Homo sapiens: one gene and its partners. The protein of the gene in region 3 purifies or fractionates together with the protein of the main gene of each other region. This does not show direct contact. Each region holds a gene or a part of one and is shown on either strand. Other genes may lie near its edges. The genes, in order: PKP1, NEFH and GPATCH2L.

Region 1 (3,651 bases), on a different chromosome or scaffold from region 3:
GCACACTGCTTCCCTTTGGTGCCTTAGACAACGACAGGCTGATTCTTTCTTGTGTCATCGGTGCAACTCAAGCTTTCTCGCCTCAAAACCTTTGAAACTGGAGGCAGCTCCTTCTTTAGGATGAGTGGAAATCTCTCTCCAGTAGGGGCAGGTGAGCCTTTGCAGGGATGACTCATCCTCTTCCACCTCCAAGCTTTCAAATAGGTCACACTTACTGCACCTGAAACATTCTTTCTCTTCTTCTCCAACCCTCCCCCTGCATTCAAAACCTTGCACAAAAATCAGCTTCTCCTAAAGATGACCGCACCCAGCTCTGAGCACTCCAAACTTGCCAGCATAACCATGTCAGCACTCAATCCAGCGGCTGACTCTGCACTGGCTTGTGGGCTCCTTGGAATGTGGCTTCTGTACACTGTGTGTGTGTGTGTGTGTGTGTGTGTGTGTGTGTGTGCACTCCTCCCAGAAGGTAGGGCCTGGGTCTCCCCAACCAAGCTGGGAGCTCCCTGAAGCAAGGAATCTTCACCTTTGGTAGATCCACACTCCACACCCCCAATCCCAGGCCCAGGTTCTACATAGAGAAGGCTCTCAGGACATCAGCCTTCCTGCAGACAGAGGTCATAGGGAAATCCGCTTTTTCCACTTTCCCTCCCCTCAAATCCTTCTCCTTCGTCACAGGGCAAGCTGCTCGGAACACATTCTTGCTTACTCTGTCTCCCTTAAGGCCGATGCTTCTTCTAGCATATTCTACTTTTGAATAAAGCCCACCTGTCCTTCAGCATGAAAAGCTTGAGAAAGGAAGCTCATTTTCTTTTAGTCTTGAAAATGCCTTTACTTCACCCTCTGAAATCTCTTTCACCCATGGTGCCCAGAAAAGCTAGGCCCACAGCAATAGGAATTTAAATGAGATAACAAGAACTGCCAGGAAGCTACTGCTGAGAGAATACCCTCAGAGGTGTTTCGGAGTGGGCAGGAGTGGACTGTGTCTGCGGGATGGTTCCAGCTCCTGGAGGGAGGACTGGGCTGGCCAGCCTCCTGCCCCCTCTGCTGGGCTGCTGGGAGCACCGTGGACATGCCTCCCCAACTCGGCAGCTTCTAGGAGATGGGGAGGGCAAGGAGTTCAGCACAGCCTCACCGGGCACTTTGGTGTGGCTCTTGACCTTTTCCTGGGTGTACGTACTGAACAGAAATGCTGAAACAAACTGGGTTGCTGTGGCCTGTGTTCTCTCTTCTCCCTCTCCAGCCCATGTGACTCCCTCAGGCTCTGCTGGGACGCGTTCAGACCTAGCTCTGCCACAATCCTGCTGCTCTTTCAGCAGATCTGTTCATGGCCACCACCAAGCCTGAGGACTGGGCAGAGCATGGGAGCATCCTGTGGGGACAGGATGGGCGTGAGGGGGCAGGGTGGTGGGTTAGAGTGGGCAAGGGTTGACGGGTTCAGGTGGGGTTCAGAGTCAAAGGCTCTCGCCAGCAACTACTACATTAAGTGTGCGTGTGTGTGTGTGTATGAGAGAAAGACATGGGTGTATGTCATTGTATAGGGGTGCTCCCCCATGCTGGATCTGTGTGAGTGAAGGACAGGGACTAGAACAGTGGTTCTCCAACTTGGCTACACATGAGAATCACCTGGGAGTTTCTGAAGTCCTGATGCCCGTGCCATCTTTCATACTCACTAAGTCAGAATCTCTGGGGGTGGGACTCACGCATTTGTGTTGTTTGAAATTTCCAGGTGATTCCAATATGTAGCCAAGTTTGAGAAGAGTGGATGAGAAGACTTTTTAATATGTTAGGATGTTTACGAGAGAGACACGATGAGTGGCATGCCTTAAGGGGAAGAGCTTTTTGGCAGAACAGCTGCTGGCGGTCTGGGCAAATGGTTTGCAGAGCTAGAGAGTTATAAAATCTATTTCCAAAGAGTGTTCCCATTGCAAAGCACTTTGGAGATGATCTAATCCAACCTCTGACAGCTGCAGAGACCCAAAGAGAGGCAGCGACTTGTCCAAGATCGCACACCAGGTAGATGCCAGGCTGGGCTCCTGACACAGCACAGCTGCAAGGACACACATGTACACACACATAACATAAGTGTGTGCATGTTATGTGTGTGTACGTGTGTGCATGTGTGGGTGTGTGGATTCATGTGTGGGGTGTATTGTGTATACATGCATATATGCATGTGTGACCTATGTGTGTATACATGTGTGCGCATGTGTCCAGCGTATGCCTAGAAGGAACTTCACATGAAGATATCTAACATTCGTCCATTTTATTTTGTTCAAACATTACACATCTTGTAAGGGTCACGGCCCATCGCAGAAGCGCTTCCCAGATTTCTAAACCTAGAACAATTGGCACAATGATACTTACAATGGTATGGGGTCGGGGGAGGAATTTGTACTTTTAAAAAATCTCTGTCAAGGAGCAGGATCCAGAGAAGCAGCATTTGCTGCAAAACACCCTAGAATACCCAGCATTTTTGCATGTGTTGTAACAGGCCAACGGAAATTCTGGCTAAAACTCCAACTTCAAGCCAAGGTACATTGTAAAGAAACAAGAATTGGTTCATTTGAAGTTTAATTGGTATGTTTCGCCAATGGAACAAGCTAAAGCACACATAGCCATTACCATCTGCAATCTCAGCTTCGGTCCCAAGAAAACAACCCCAGAAGTGATGCCTGTGGTCAGGAAAGGACAACTTTCTAGAAACTCTAATGAGCAGAACACTCGGGCAGAAGCTCATGCTGAGACATAGTCAAACACAAATACAAAAAGCCATCAAAGTGGGGGCTCCTGAGGCGAGCTCCTTCACTGTGCAGGCTGCGGAGTTCGTACAAGCATGCCCCCCTCTCCCCTGATGAGGGCTGAATAGACACAGGAACTACAGAAAGGGAGCAGGCACCTCCCCTGGCTCAATGTTGCCTCCAGCCCCTACCTCTGATCAGAGAGAAATAGAGGCTTAGCAATTTTAGATGGGAAACAGTACTTCTATGAAGAAGGGAGAAAGAGAATTTCAGGCCAAAGGCTGAAATAAAAAATCACAGATGGCTAAGCAGGCAGTGAGACAAAGCAGGCAATGGTGCTGGTGTTGTTAGGACTTCCCTGGAAGGAGACAGGACAGGTGAAAGGAAGCTCCTTTCACTGAGCTGGGTGTGATCTGTATTCACAGTGGCGGGGGAGCGCTTGGGTTAGGGCAAGTGAGATTCAGGTTCAGCTTTAGGAAGAGATTCCAAGTGAAGTTATAAAGATCTGGAAGGTGGATAAGTGTTTCCTTCCCCATCCTCAGGGAGGTCATTTCCCTGGCAAAGATCTTTTGCTGGGTGGTGACATCCCCCTCAGTTTCCCCTTGCCTTCCACACAGTCTGGGAAGAAAAGGAGGCCAGACACCCTGAGGCACACAGGGACAGCCTGAAAACACAGGGGAGCAATACTTCAGGGGCAGTTCAAGATGGGTAGGCAGGTTCAGAGCAACCTCCTTCTGCAAGGTCTCCAGGCCACAGAAGCCACCTTCTTCCTGCCCGGGGCCTTCATGACCAGGGCAAGGTGCTTGTCTGATCTGTGGCATTTCAGGGAGAGCATGAGTGCAGACAGGCATTTTGTGACAGGCTCCAGGGGCCCTTCCTCCAGTCCTCAGTGGCTCAATACTCCCTCAGTGAC
Region 2 (3,651 bases), on a different chromosome or scaffold from region 3:
TCGCTATGTTGGCCAGGCTGGTCTCGAACTCCTGACCTCAGGTGATCCGCCTACCTCGGCCTCCCAAAGTGCTGGGATTACAGGCGTGAGCCACTGTGCCCAGCCAATGAGTCTTGAGAGTGACTTACTTTCATTCTGAAATGATTTAGACGGTGGAAGTTCCTTATCCCCTCCCCAGATCCAGCCAGCCAGAGGCCTGCTTTGAAGGGAAAAGAGGTGCTTGAGTCAGGGACCTTTCAAACTCTGTCCTTTAGAGTTTCTTAGCTCTGCAAGCATTCATTTCTTGGGGATATAAAGTGGAGATGATAATAAGGGCAACCATGTCATAGGGTTGTCAGGAAGATGAGCTAATCCCATTCCCAAGCTAATCCAGGAAGCACAGGTACCACTGGGCTGCTACAGAGGGAACCCTTAGTCAGTGGCAGCCTTGAGAAATCCAGTCTGAGGAATAAGACCGGGGGGAGCAGGGCTAGGGAGCAGGACTGATTCCCTGAGGACTTGTCCCAGTTCTGACTGGTGACCTGTGGCTTCCTACCTCTTGGCTCTCGTCTGTAATCTTGCTACTCAAAGCATGGCACATGAACCAGCAGAATTGGCATCATTCAAGAGCTTATCAGAAAGATAGTCTCTTGGTTGGGTGTAGTGACTCATGCCTGTAATCCCAGCACTTTGGGAGACCAAGGCAGACAGATTGTTTCAGTTCAGAGACCAAGCTGGGCAGCATGGCAAAACCCCATCTCTACAAAAAATACAAAAAAAAAAAAAATAGCTGGGCATGGTGGCACATGCCTTTAGTCTCAGCTACTCAGGAGGCTGACGTGGGAGGATCACCTGAGCCTGGGAGTTGGAGGCTTCAGTGAGCTATGATCGTGCCACTGCACTCCAGCCTGTCATCACAGAGTGAGACACTGTCTCAAAAATAACAACAACACAACAACAACAAAAGACAGACGCTCAGCCCCTCCCCAGACCTGCTGAATCAGAATCTGCATTTTGATAAGATCCCCGGTCATCTGTGTGCTGCTAAATTTGGGAAGTACTAGTCTGAGGGGTAACCCCCACACTTACTCTGAGACAAGCATTCTGCCAAGTCTTTTCCATTCATTGTCTCACTGAAACAACCCTCTGACGTAGGGACTCTAATGACCCTCTTTTTCCAGTGAGGAAATTGAGGCTCAAAGAGTTGGTGTGTCTTGGCCAAGGTCACCCATCTAGTGAGGAGCAAAGCCAAGAGGAGAAACTGCGGCCTCTACCCTATTCCTGAAACTCAAAAGATGGTAATACAGGGTGATGAGAGACACTCGCGATTCAAATGGGAGCGTTCTAAGACCTCTTAAACCCAAATTTATAAAAGTAGAATTGTGGTCGGGTGCGGTGGCTCACACCTGTAATCCCAGCACTTTGGGAGGCCTAGGCGGGTGGATCGGCTGAGGTCAGGAGTTCGAGACCAGCCTGACCAATATGGTGAAACCCCCGTCTCTACTAAAAATACAAAAATTAACTGGACGTGGTGGCGTGCGCCTGTACTCCCAGCTACTCAGTAGGCTGAGACAGGAGAATTGCTTGAAGCTGGGGGAATTGCTTGAATCTGGGAGGCAGAGGTTGCAGTGAACTGAGATTGTACCACTGGACTCCAGCCTAGGTGACAGAGCAAGACTCCGTCTCAAAAAAAGGAAAAAAAAAAGTGGAATTGTTTGCTCAGGCTCCCAGGGTTCTCTTGAATAATATTTTAGTTTGAGGGACAATAAATTTAACTTTTGTTAAATTTATTTAGGAGCTTTCTCTTGAGGGCCATTTTTTATGGGGCAAAAGTTGTTTTATTTCAAAAGTTTCAGGCTTAGCTGTGTTGAAGAAGACCAGCTGTTCCAGCCTGGGCAACACAGTGAGACCCTCTCAAAAACAACAACATCAACAAAAAAAGACCAGTCCCACCGGGGTACACATTCTGGGTGGTCACTGGAATGATTTGCCAAGTGACTTTCTCTAGTCTCATAATGCCCACCATTCACATTCCTGTTCCACCAAAACCCATATCATTCGATGTCAGTGACCTTCAGGATAGTCTAGGAAGAACCCAAATAGTGAATTTGCCCTGAGTTTATACTAATGTGTTCCGTGATCCATCCTGCAGAAAACTCCTGGAAGGTGAAGAGTGTCGGATTGGCTTTGGCCCAATTCCTTTCTCGCTTCCAGAAGGACTCCCCAAAATTCCCTCTGTGTCCACTCACATAAAGGTGAAAAGCGAAGAGAAGATCAAAGTGGTGGAGAAGTCTGAGAAAGAAACTGTGATTGTGGAGGAACAGACAGAGGAGACCCAAGTGACTGAAGAAGTGACTGAAGAAGAGGAGAAAGAGGCCAAAGAGGAGGAGGGCAAGGAGGAAGAAGGGGGTGAAGAAGAGGAGGCAGAAGGGGGAGAAGAAGAAACAAAGTCTCCCCCAGCAGAAGAGGCTGCATCCCCAGAGAAGGAAGCCAAGTCACCAGTAAAGGAAGAGGCAAAGTCACCGGCTGAGGCCAAGTCCCCAGAGAAGGAGGAAGCAAAATCCCCAGCCGAAGTCAAGTCCCCTGAGAAGGCCAAGTCTCCAGCAAAGGAAGAGGCAAAGTCACCGCCTGAGGCCAAGTCCCCAGAGAAGGAGGAAGCAAAATCTCCAGCTGAGGTCAAGTCCCCCGAGAAGGCCAAGTCCCCAGCAAAGGAAGAGGCAAAGTCACCGGCTGAGGCCAAGTCTCCAGAGAAGGCCAAGTCCCCAGTGAAGGAAGAAGCAAAGTCACCGGCTGAGGCCAAGTCCCCAGTGAAGGAAGAAGCAAAATCTCCAGCTGAGGTCAAGTCCCCGGAAAAGGCCAAGTCTCCAACGAAGGAGGAAGCAAAGTCCCCTGAGAAGGCCAAGTCCCCAGAGAAGGAAGAGGCCAAGTCCCCTGAGAAGGCCAAGTCCCCAGTGAAGGCAGAAGCAAAGTCCCCTGAGAAGGCCAAGTCCCCAGTGAAGGCAGAAGCAAAGTCCCCTGAGAAGGCCAAGTCCCCAGTGAAGGAAGAAGCAAAGTCCCCTGAGAAGGCCAAGTCCCCAGTGAAGGAAGAAGCAAAGTCCCCTGAGAAGGCCAAGTCCCCAGTGAAGGAAGAAGCAAAGACCCCCGAGAAGGCCAAGTCCCCAGTGAAGGAAGAAGCTAAGTCCCCAGAGAAGGCCAAGTCCCCAGAGAAGGCCAAGACTCTTGATGTGAAGTCTCCAGAAGCCAAGACTCCAGCGAAGGAGGAAGCAAGGTCCCCTGCAGACAAATTCCCTGAAAAGGCCAAAAGCCCTGTCAAGGAGGAGGTCAAGTCCCCAGAGAAGGCGAAATCTCCCCTGAAGGAGGATGCCAAGGCCCCTGAGAAGGAGATCCCAAAAAAGGAAGAGGTGAAGTCCCCAGTGAAGGAGGAGGAGAAGCCCCAGGAGGTGAAAGTCAAAGAGCCCCCAAAGAAGGCAGAGGAAGAGAAAGCCCCTGCCACACCAAAAACAGAGGAGAAGAAGGACAGCAAGAAAGAGGAGGCACCCAAGAAGGAGGCTCCAAAGCCCAAGGTGGAGGAGAAGAAGGAACCTGCTGTCGAAAAGCCCAAAGAATCCAAAGTTGAAGCCAAGAAGGAAGAGGCTGAAGATAAGAAAAAAGTCCCCACCCCAGAGAAGGAGG
Region 3 (3,651 bases):
TTATTTTCAGTAAGAGTATTCACATATAATGGTGTTTTTAAAACGGATGCTTTTAAAATAATTTAAGTAGTTTTATTTTAATGACCCTATTGGGACTTTAACACAAATATGTTTCCTTTTCCCTTTGCTTTTTCTTCAATTATGATGTAGCAAAGTGGGTGGAAAGAACCTAGGACAGAGAGATGGAAATGTGGTGCTAATACTCTGATACTGTCTACCAAGCTCTGTGATAGTCACTGCATTTTCCTGGGATGACAGGGTCATCACTTACGATATGTGACATTGGACAAAACCATTTCTTTTAGCACTATAAATTTATGATTCTAGGGTTCCCAGTAACCCATAATCAACCAGTTAATCAGTTGCCAAGAGTTTGTTGAACATCTGTGGGTGATCAGAATCACACTACGAGATGTAAACTTGTATTATGTAGGATTTTGTCATGGTGAATTTTTGTTTGTCATGGTGAATTTTTGTCATGGCGAACCAGCAGTTGGTGCTTGGTAAAGACTAGCTGAGGCACACATTGCTTTATTGAACATTTTGATGAACATTTCTAAAAGTTTCTAATGGACCACTTAAAATATATACAAACAAGCAAGAATAGTGAGAAGAAACTTAAAATGGCCTATAATCTCATATCCAGAGACAATCTCATTAATAACATTTTGGTGTGGTTTCCTCCAGTTGTTCTTTCCTTGTGTAGAACACATGCAGCAGTGAGAAAAATTGGGTTATCCGACACGTGCTATTTTCCCCATTATGTCATGAATTAGAATGTTTTTGACGTACAAACTAACATTTAATTTTAAATTAAAAATTATTAATAGTACCTTATGTTTGTGTGGTGTTTTCAGTTTATAAAGTCCCTTCTGCTTGCTATTTCATTGGGTCTTCAAAACAGCCCAGTAAGGTAGGACTGAGTGATTATCCCTCTTTTATAGATGGAGGATGCCTAGGTCAAAGGTAAATGGCATGCCTGTGATCATACTGCTAGTGACAAAGACCTGGGAATAATAAATCCTTGGCAAATAGCTCTGTGATGCTAGTTTAAAGGTCAATCTATTAAGATCCTGGGGGTAAAGCCTTCAGTGTACTAGAAACATAGGATTGCATATGGATTTTCTGCATTCGGTATCTGAGGCCTTCCTTCTTTTTTTAGGGTACCATACTCGCTTGAATCGTCTACCTGGAGCTGCAGCTCGATGCCTCAGAAAGGGGCGAAGAAGGCTGGTTGGGAAGGTGATACCTCTCACAGTTAGCTTGGCTCAGTGGGGAGATAATATTCCCTATGGGAGTTGTGTATCCTATTAACAATCAGAGGTGCTACAGAACTCCCTGAAGTTAATGGAGCCAACTGGAATGTGTTGGGAGTTTACAAGAGTGAACATTATGTAGAATGTGAATGGATATACAAATAAAAGATGAAACGTAATTCATATAGAAGTACTGACAAAAAAAAAAAACACTGTCATTACAGTGTCTATTGCCTGTAAACCTACAAGCCTGAGCTGTGTCTTCTGTAACTTTTGATTAATGTTATGTTATTATTGTGTAAGTTAAAATACTCTTGGCTTCTTTATGACTCCTCTTGAATTCATGAATGCATCTTTGTTCTTTCCTAATTTTGGTCTTTCATCCTAGAATTCATTAAAAAAAAAAAACAAAACTGTTACTGAGTTTCAAGAGCCCCTCCTTGGCCATGAGGGAGAACTATCTGCTGTTTATTCAGTTCTGCCTTTGCCAGGGATGGTACTAGGGACTCAGCTCATTTAATCCTTCCAGCAACCTACAAGGGCAAGCACCTTCAGCAGATGAGGAAAACTTAGGTTCGAAGAAGTTAAGGAATGTCTGATGTTACCCAGATAGGAATGGTAGAATAGAGATTTGAACCCAGGTCTACTTTTATCTTTTTACATTTTTATTGAATTTTATTTTTTACTCTACTTTGAGATTGAGGAATAAATTAAGACAGGGCTCATCCTCAGTCAGAGAAGATGGTGGTGGGCAAAGAATAAGGAAGGGAGAGGCATTGAGAGCATTAATTTGTTTGTTCACTTGGTAAGCATTTAGAATGCCTGCTAGGTGGCACAATATGTGCCACAGTCTGGCTTCCCTTAAGGGGATACTGTTTTATAGTCTGACCAGGGAACAGTTTTCTGAAGTTTTAAGCATGCAAAAGAAATGAGACTGTTTATTTCCAGACGAGCCCAAGATTCTTATTTCTTTTTATCTTTAAATTCAAGTTCAAATCTTTTTTTTTTTTTTGAGATGGAATCTCGCTCTGTGACCTAGGCTGGAATGCAATGGTGCGATCTCGGCTCACTGTAACTTCCTGCCTTCCAGGTTCAAGCAATTCTCCTGCCTCAGCCTCCCAAGTAGCTGGGATTACAGGCGCCCCACCATGCCTGGCTAATTTTTTTGTATTTTTAGTACAGATGGGGTTTTACCATGTTGGCTAGGCTGGTCTCAAACCCCTGACCTCAGGTGATCCACCCGCCTCGGCCTCCCAAAGTTCTGGGATTACAGGCATGAGCCACCGTGCCCGGCCTCAAGTTCAAATCTTGAATTAGAAGACATTTGATTATTGGAAAACTGATACCTTTCAAATTACTCATTTTACAGACAAAACGCTGCTTTTTCTGTTTTGGGAGCTTATTGTTAACAGGGATAGCTAGCAGAATAGCAGTACATGGGGTGGAAGAAGGAGAGGTTTTACTTTTATTGTTTAGGCTTGACAGATAATGTTCCCCCTGCCACCTGTGTTACTTTCTTTCAGCTCTTATAAAATAAGAGCCATCCACTTCCATGGAAACAAGTCACTTTATCTTGAAGGTTTCCCTTTAGCTTGCCTGGAAGGGAGTGAGGGCCTGTTGGATGTGCCTTTAATGATTTCAAATGAATAGGATAATATTTACTTGTTTAATTCATCTTCATCACCTTAAAGGGATATTTATCATTTCTAGAAGAGGTCACCGCTCTGCCCCCCTTCTTCCCCCTCCCCCATCTCTCTTCTGCTTTTCTAAATTGTAATCATAAATAATGAGTTTCATTCACAGCTCCCTGCCAGTGAGCTGCTAATTACACAAAGTACTGCTTGTAATTTACACAGTAATAAACTGTAAATTTAAACATTACGGCACTTTAAGTTAATAATTTTTCTGCTGTAACAAATAGCTCATTTTTCACCCATCTTTTCCCTTGGCCCCCCTACCATGTCTGTCTGTGACCAGGAGGCATAGCTATAAGAAATGCAGAACATGAAGAATATAGTATATGAAAACTTCTCATTTAACTCCACTACCGCCCGGACTCTGACCTCAGAGTAATTTTTCTACAGCCAGTTCTGCTGAAATGTGTAGCCTGATGTTTAGCACGGTCCACACACATAGATGAATATAGACACAAATGTGTTTGAAGAACAGCCTTGATGTTCTTGGCATTCACGCCCGTGACTTGTGTTCTCTCAACACAACAGTTACTCAGATGTGTGTTGGTATGCTTTCCCAGGTGCCATGGTAGGTAAGCATTGTGAATGTACTCAAGTTAAATGAAGAGTGAATTGCCGTTTTCCAATTTTTTGGAAATGGTTCGTTTCTGAACTCTTTGTGGTGTTATGGGTAAGCTTTTACACTATAATCTTGAGAACCC

The links.
Region 1: the proteins of GPATCH2L (region 3) and PKP1 purify together in Homo sapiens (affinity purification with mass spectrometry; one large-scale study listed by BioGRID and IntAct). This does not show direct contact.
Region 2: the proteins of GPATCH2L (region 3) and NEFH purify together in Homo sapiens (affinity purification with mass spectrometry; 2 studies listed by BioGRID and IntAct, with this or other methods). This does not show direct contact.

What each region holds. Positions count from the first base shown.
Region 1 is NC_000001.11:201,286,489-201,290,139, reverse strand, and holds part of PKP1 (plakophilin-1), read right to left. Parts: intron 1-3,651. UniProt on the Homo sapiens protein: A component of desmosome cell-cell junctions which are required for positive regulation of cellular adhesion.
Region 2 is NC_000022.11:29,486,718-29,490,368, forward strand, and holds part of NEFH (neurofilament heavy polypeptide), read left to right. Parts: intron 1-2,131; coding exon 2,132-3,651. UniProt on the Homo sapiens protein: Neurofilaments usually contain three intermediate filament proteins: NEFL, NEFM, and NEFH which are involved in the maintenance of neuronal caliber. NEFH has an important function in mature axons that is not subserved by the two smaller NF proteins.
Region 3 is NC_000014.9:76,172,384-76,176,034, forward strand, and holds part of GPATCH2L (G patch domain-containing protein 2-like), read left to right. Parts: exon of another isoform or gene 1-1,162; coding exon 1,163-1,242; exon of another isoform or gene 1,243-3,137; intron 3,138-3,651.